2 linked regions of the Homo sapiens genome follow. Each later gene encodes a partner of the first gene's protein in a complex. Each region holds a gene or a part of one and is shown on either strand. Other genes may lie near its edges.

Region 1 (3,745 bases):
GGCTGCCACCGAGGGCGGCGGGGGACCCGCGCTGCATGTGTAATGGGGGCTGGGAACAAAGACGCGCAGGACCCGGCGGCCGGGTACCAGCCGCCCCGACCTTCTCGCCAGAGCTTCAATGCCCAGCTCCCCACGTTTCCCAGGACTGGCCAGGGGACGTCCCGGCGCGCCCGCCGGGGTTAGGCGCACCCCGGCACCACTGAGAGAGGGAAATCGGTGCTTGGACCGTAGGAGAAACAAGCTTTCCAGGCGGAACTCCGCTTGTTTACGCCCGCGCCCACATACCCCCAAACACACATGCGCTGGCCGAACACCTCCAGCCACACGCCCGCAGCCGCGGGCGAGCTGAGCGCTGGTCACCCACCCCGCCACGTGCCTCCTGGAGGCCCGAAGGAAGAGGGACCTGTTGGGTTTTCCATCTTACCCACCCCCTCCCCTCCCAAGTGCCCAAACAAAGCGGTCCCGCGAAGCGACCACACTCCGCATCCCGGGGCCAACGGCAGGGAAAGAGGGAGCAGGTGGGAGCCAGCACCAACAGCCCGCCGGGCCGGTAACGCGACGCAGACTGGTGGCAAGAGATGCAGGGGACTTTGGGCTGCGTGAAGCCGCCCCCTTCGCTTCGCTACACTTAGTGACTCTGAGGGACATGCAACCCTCCCCGCATGCTGCTGCTGCTGCTGCACCTACAATCCTGCCACCCCCAATGAGATCTGCCCACCCCTCTTGGCCGCCTTCCCCACGCTCAGGTTTTCCTCACTCTTTCCCTGGGTTCCACGCGCCCGCGTAGCCCGAACTCCGACCCTGAGGCTCCGCGTCCCGGCCCCCATCGCAGGGGCGCCTCTAGGAACCAGAATCCCGCAGATGACTGCACAGACAAGATCGTGCCCCCAAGTTCGGCGAGCCGGGCGCCCACCGCGCCCCCAGCCCACGCCCCCGGAGGTGAGGGCTGAATACAGGTGGTGCGGCGACGAGGCCCCGGGCCCGCCCTTTGTTGGTAAACACCGCGCGGCGCCAGAGGCCAGCCCCGCGCGCCCTCTCGGCGTCCCCGCGCCGCGCCCAGTTCTTACCGGCGCACAGCGATCCCCAGAGGAGGGCGAGGGCCACCCAGGGCGCCGTCATGTTCCGCGGCGCCGCCCCGCGCACACCCGGAGCCCGCGGGCAGGGCCGCACGGCGCTCCCGGGGCGCGCAGGGCCAGGCGGCGGCTGCGCTCTCCTTCCCGCTCCTTCCTTCGGTCTCGTTCCCTGCGCGCTTCCTGCGCCTTCGTCCCCGAGCAGCGTTCGGGCTCCAAGGGCCGGTCGGCGGGGCCGGGCTCAGGGCCGCTGCGGGCGGCGCAGGCTGCGGCCCGGGCTCCGGGGCGACGCGGGGGCCGGGGGGCGGCGGCGGGGCACGGGCCGGGGCGCGCCCGACTCAGGCATAGCGCGGCGGGGCTGGGCCCGGGCCCCGGGCGCAGGGGCCGAGTCCGGAGGGGCCATGAACGGGGGGAGGGGTGGGGGGGAGGGGAGCTGAACCGAGTCCAAAATGGCTCCTGAGCGGCGGCCACGGAGCCGAGCCAGCGGGGAAACCCGGATGTTGGATACAAAGAGGCGGGCGGGCTGGGCGGGGAGGGGGAGGGGAGGCGGGCCCTCCGGCCGCGTGGTCCGCGCCCCCCTGAGGGGCGGGGCCCCAGAGAAACAACAACACGGAGGCCCCGCCCCCATCCCGCGCCCTGTGGGAGGACGCGCGTGCACCAACTTGCTGGAGGACAGGGCGGGGCGCGCGGACGGAGGTGGCGGGAATGGGCTCCTGACCACTTTGCCCGGGAGCCTGTGGCCACTGCACTCGCAATTAGTGCCCCGCACGCTCGAGCCCAAGCTCCTGACACATGCTGCCCTACAACCCCGGAATGAGTGGATAGTCCCGGGACTCTGGCCCAGACGCCTCTGTGCCTTGGATTCCCCACCTGTGCAATGGGGGTGACAGTGAACCGTGGGAAAGTCGGATCTCTACTGATGGGCGAATTAAGTGGCAGAAAGAGGCTGACTTCCCTGAATTGACAAGCAGTCTCCCGTCTGCAATCCCTTGCCACACACTCAAAGGCACAGCTAGGGCGGGGAGTGGTCATTTAAACCCAACCAAGTGAGGGAGCGGGCAGAGTCCCGCCCCTCTAAGCCCAGCAGGTGGAAAAGGGCCTCTGGCAACCTGCTGGCCCTCCCTAATCCTATCTTGTCTTCTGCAGTTCCTGCGCCACCCACAGCGGCCCTGAGCTTCAATCTGCACTTTCAAAACTTCCCAGTTGCCTCCAGAGCCCTGCAGTTGAAGATCTTGTCTAGCACATGGTTTTGCTGTTTTCCTCACCCCGAACTCCCTCCTTGGAGGGCCATCGTTCTCTGTCTCAGATTCCACCCTCCTTATCACACAACTAGAGCTTCGGAGGAACGTGATGGGGCTCCCAACTAAGGAGGGAAAGACCATCATAGCTCAGGGATGAGGCTCCGAGATCCTCAGATAACATTAATTGTCCTCTGTCTTCTCTTGACTTGGCACATCCTTGCTTGGAGCAGGGCAGGAGCAGCTGAAAGGGAGGTGGCACCTGGAGGTCTCAGTCATTTCACTTCTCTGAGCCTCAGTTTTCCCATATGCAAAGTGAAGAGGTACACTCCCTCAGGGTTTTGCATCTTCTTAATGGCAGAAACCTAGTCAAACAAAATATTATGTAAATGTTCACTATAGGCAGGGCGAGGTGGCTCAAACCTGTAATTCCAGCACTTTTAGAGGCCCAGGAGGCTCTTGAGGTCAGGAGTTCGAGACCAGCCTGACCAACATGGCAAAAACCTGTCTCTACTAAATAATACAAAAATTAGCTGGGCATGGTGACACACACCTGTAATTCCAACTACTCGGTAGGAGGCTGAGGCAGGAGAATCGCTTGAACACAGGAGGGAGGCGGAGGTTGCAGTGAGCTGAGATTGCACCACTGCACTCCATCCTAGGTGACAGAGTGAGACTCTCTCTCAAAAAAAAAACAAGTTTATAAAGGAATGTATATTGTTCTGATTGACATTGAAATAGGGTCAACTACCCCCGGTCACCAGAGCAGCAGGAACACCTCAGGGGCCACACTTTGGAGGCACTGCCCAGAAAGATTTCTGGGTCTTTAAAAGTCCCTTCCAGTCCTGGGAAATTCTATGTGAAAATGATGGTCCCTGCTTGCTATAATCCCTACAGGTGACTTATTATCTAAGCCATTTAACACAGGATTGAATACTATGCGACTGTGTGCCAAGCAAGAAGCAGTGTTGTATGGGACACCCTAGCTGTGTATAAGGTATCTGGTAATAACACAGGAGGCCACAGTGATAGACTGTGATAACGGAAGTAATTCCATATCCAGTTTAAGTGTCTTTTCTAGGGAGTATAAATCGTTATCTCCATTCCAATATGGACTGAAAGGTATCGACTTTTATCCATGTGCCAAAAATTAGATTGGCTGGTTCCTCTCTTCTACTCCATACCAGGTCAGGTATCATAATAAGGACTCAGAGTGGTCCAAGCTGCCCAAATATCTGTGTCTTCCACTCTGACCTGTCTGGGAACCCCAAATTTATATCCAACTGCTTACTTGACAACTGCAGTTGGTAGCCTATCAGGCATCTCAAATTTGACCTAGCCAAAGCAGAAGTCCTCATTTTCCCCGTAAATCTCCTCCCCAGTTTTCCCTGTCTGAATCAATGGCATAAGCAACTACACCATTGCTCAAATCAGAAC
Region 2 (3,745 bases), on another chromosome or scaffold:
TGAAAGGTACACTTAAGATCTTCCAAAGGAGATGCCTCCAATTGGGATTGAGAGTTCCTACTGTTTATCGAGCATCTACTATGTGCCAGGCATTACACTGGGAGCTTTGCAGAATACATTTCACCTTAATCCTCTCACTTACCCTGGGAGGATCTAATTATTATTCCACATTTGCAGATGTGGAGACTGGGATTCAAGGCAGTTAATTGCCAAAATGCATACAGCTAGTTAAGTATTCTGGGACTTACTAGCACACAGCTATTGAGTACATAAAGAAAACAGAAAAACTCACTGTCAGATCCTGAGTGAAGATCCTGAGTGTATGAATTTAAAGGAGAGATCCTGGGTGGGGACAGTGAAACCCCAATATTAAGACAATATCAAAAATCTCAGCCTCTAAACAGTGTATAAATCGTTTGAAATTGTAATTTCCAAACAAAGCAAAAGTGGATAATTGGTTTTAGTGTTTCAGGAACAAAATCTATTAGCTTCAATTGCTTTGTCATGTCAAGCAAAAATGGGGCTTGGCTTTTAGCCACATAGTTATCTCGATATCCCATTTATCCTGGGCTGACACTTTGTCATTAGCACGCTCCTGCTATACAATGGCTGGTTCACAGACAGGGAAAAGAGGTTGCATTTTTTCAGCACTTGCTATATACCCACATGTGTGGAGACCCTGTGCTATAGGGAAACCTAGCTGGCAGGTTTTGAAGTGCCAGTCCTGCCTCTGCAGACCAGTTAGGTCTGGCCTGGGCGTGGTATGGAGCCAGGCCCCTTAGCCATTTGCAAGTCTCAGACCCAGGAAGGGAGAGGCTCTGTGCTCCTGGACATTCAGAGGGAGACAGCAGCAGCAGGAAAAGCCAGCTCTGCAGGCAGACAGGTTTAACACTTCCTAGGTGTGCAGGCTTAACACTTCCTAGGTGACATGGGTGGGTACCCTTGGTGGCTGCAAGCTTTGACTGAACAGTTTTGCTCTTCAGAAACTTATTTCCCCTGCATCATGTGAGCTTGTCTGAGTTAGGACATAGGTCCTAGGTCCGTGTTTGTTATCTTCTAGTCCTTCTAAATCAGATATATTTCTATTTAAAAACAATTAGGTTCTCTGCCAACACTTCTCTGTCCAAGAATTTTATCTGATTTTTAAAACCGTTTCATAAGAAAGGAATAGATGTGCTTTGAAAATTTAAAAATATCCCAGTTAGTTGGAGGTGAAATAGGTTGCCTGTTCTGTTCTGAAGTAGGAAGGGGACAGGAAGGGAAGGGGGAAAGGAAGAGAAGTGAATCAGAGGGGAGTGATGCAAAGAAGAGGAGAGTAAAGAGAAGGGGTGGAAAAAAGAGAGCTGGCATCCCTGTGCACCTGCTGTGTGAAATGTGGCACACAGCTTGGGGAAGGTGAATCCTTCACAACAGAAGTGCTGAGTAGAACTCTCAGTAACCATGGAAATGTTCTTCAGTCTGCACTGCCTGATAGGGAAGCCATTAGCCACGCATTTGAAAGGAAGCTGGTGAGGCTAAAGAAATAAGTTTTAATTTTATTTCATTGTAACTAATTTAAATGGAAGCTTGAAGAGCCTCCTATGGCCAGTGGCCTCCACCCTGGGGAAAGCAGCTGTGGACCTGTGAGTCCCACCCCAGCGCGCATGGTGCAAGCGGAGACCCTACCTTCCATGCTGAAGCTCCGCACAATGTTGGACGCTGGCGTAGTCGACTTATCGGACGTGTACCTGTTGTACAGGTCAATCATGTACTGCGGCGGCTCCACCCTGGTTTTGTCCTGCGAAGGGACCCCACTCAGGTTAAGGCTGCGCAGGAAATCCACCTTCACGTTCTCCAGAAACATCTTCAGGTTGAAGGTGTGCTCAGGCAGCCCACCTCCAGGCACCCCCAGTGGGCTGTGGGCGTTTCCCCCAGCAGACCCTCGTCCCCAGCTCTGCAGTGGCTTCCCCTGTAGGGAGCCAGCCAGCAGGGACAGCAGGGGCAGGGCCACCCACAGTGCCCCAGGACACATCTTAGGCCCGCGCAATCACCCAGAGAGGAGACTGCAGGCGGCCGTGCTGTGTTAGCGGGCACGGGGAGGAGCTGGGAAGGAGCGGGCCGGCATCTCCCTGCTGTTTGCTCTGAAGGAACCGTCCTGGCCAGCACCCACTCTCACCCGCTGCCGGGCTGGATTGTCCTCCACTTGTGCTTATCTGGTCCTCGATGCCGCGCTCCGACGTCTTATCTGAGGGAGCCTTCCGTTAATGAAGGCTCTATAAACATCTGACAAACACACAGGGCATGCGGGAAGGACACGGCCTACTGTAAAGAATCTGTGCTTCTCCAGGGGGTTATTGCCCCCTAATTAGGATACTTTCTCATTTCCTTGCCAGGGCTCTTCAGAAGAATCTCCAGGCAGGGTGACATATGCTCCATCTCCTGGGCCACAGGAGTGAAGAATCCAGGAAACAAGACCAAGTAGTCCTCCAAATATAGAAAGGACAGCACAAGATCACAGTGAACCGTGGGGGCTGGGGAGATGGGGAGAGTGTGGGGACCACATCAGGGCTCAGAAGAGGCCTGCTCCTTGCAGAATCGGAACCTGCCAGCAAGCCTCCCTGCTCTGTTGGTGGGATGCACTGCTGAGCATTAGAGATCACGAGTGAATATGGCTCCCGTGCAATTTAGTGCGGTGATGAGTCAAACTAGACACAGGCTGGGATCTCAACTCCCTCACCGATTCCCTGCAAATGTCACCTGGAACAAGTCACTGCAGCTCTTGGAGCCTCCCATTCAGAAGATAGTTATAGGGGTTAAGAGGATGCTGTGCCCCAGGCTGGCTTGGTGGCTGCATTCTGGATGCCCCCTCTCCAGCCCAGGCCTGATTGAGCTGGAGCTGGGGGAGGAAGCCCTGGGTTCCCCCAGCCTGCTCTGTCGGAGCTCCACAACACACTGCAGCCTGTGGGGAGCTCCCCACATCCCTGCATCCCAGCTGTGTCACTGGTCTGTTGTGGGGTGGTCTTAGCTCACACCAACCTGGCAGCCACCTGGCCCACACTCATCAGCAGGGAGAACCACGCAATCTGGTAGACAGGGGAGTAGGTGGGTTGTTCTGAGAGTGGTACATGCCAAGAAGATGATCCCCTGGCCTTTGGAGGCTGATAAGCTGTGGCCCAGGAAAGGGCCCCAGGGACTGCGTTAAGAGCAGTATGTCCACACTTAGACTCTGTCCATTTCCATCACGTGTGGCTTTGAGCAAAGCAAAGAAGGATCATGGTTAGAAACACTCTGGGGTATGCTGTGCCTGGTGGTTTACTCTGGGGAAGGTATTCTATGCTGGTGAGGCTGTCCGGGAGAGGCTGCAGAGAGCTGAGCAGGTTTAGGGGGGTGCAGGAGGGGCCACAGCATGCTGCGGTCAGAGATTGCAGAGGGGGATGGGTGAAATCAGGAGCCCCTGAATGGCTGGGCCTGAATAGAACTTGCTATCTCTGTCCTTTGATGACATGGGCCAGGGGAAGACGGGAAGCGTGCTGCTTCAGAAATGCTGCTTGGGAAGAGGACTGGAAGTGTGCTGGGCTTTGATCCAGCTCAGTGCAAGAATTCCATGGGGCAGAGAAAAGATGAATAAATGGGTGCCATGCCCAAGAAATGGAGCTGCAAATGCGGAGTGAGGTGTGGTCCGGGAGGAGTGAGGACAGGGCAGATGCCTGCAACATGGTCTGGCCAGGAGCTTTTCACACACGAGAGGCTGAGCAGAGGGATAGCC

The links.
Region 2: the proteins of ACVR2B (region 1) and GDF2 are in contact, whole or in part, in a crystal structure (PDB 4FAO), measured with the Homo sapiens proteins. Residues at the interface, in NP_001097.2 of Homo sapiens: Asn35, Glu39, Cys49, Glu50, Glu52, Lys55, Leu57, Tyr60, Ser62, Arg64, Val73, Lys74, Cys77, Trp78, Leu79, Asp81, Phe82, Asn83, Glu94, Gln98, Val99, Phe101; in NP_057288.1 of Homo sapiens: Arg333, Ile346, Ala347, Pro348, Lys349, Glu350, Tyr351, Glu352, Lys397, Ser399, Pro400, Ile401, Ser402, Val403, Leu404, Lys406, Gly410, Val411, Pro412, Thr413, Leu414, Tyr416, His417.

What each region holds. Positions count from the first base shown.
Region 1 is NC_000003.12:38,451,697-38,455,441, reverse strand, and holds the start of ACVR2B (activin receptor type-2B precursor), read right to left. Parts: upstream 1,553-3,745; 5' UTR 1,120-1,552; coding exon 1,068-1,119; intron 1,056-1,067; exon of another isoform or gene 828-1,055; coding exon of another isoform or gene 758-827; exon of another isoform or gene 622-757; intron 1-621. UniProt on the Homo sapiens protein: Transmembrane serine/threonine kinase activin type-2 receptor forming an activin receptor complex with activin type-1 serine/threonine kinase receptors (ACVR1, ACVR1B or ACVR1c).
Region 2 is NC_000010.11:47,320,935-47,324,679, reverse strand, and holds the start of GDF2 (growth/differentiation factor 2 preproprotein), read right to left. Parts: upstream 2,227-3,745; 5' UTR 2,012-2,226; coding exon 1,666-2,011; intron 1-1,665. UniProt on the Homo sapiens protein: Potent circulating inhibitor of angiogenesis. Signals through the type I activin receptor ACVRL1 but not other Alks. Signaling through SMAD1 in endothelial cells requires TGF-beta coreceptor endoglin/ENG.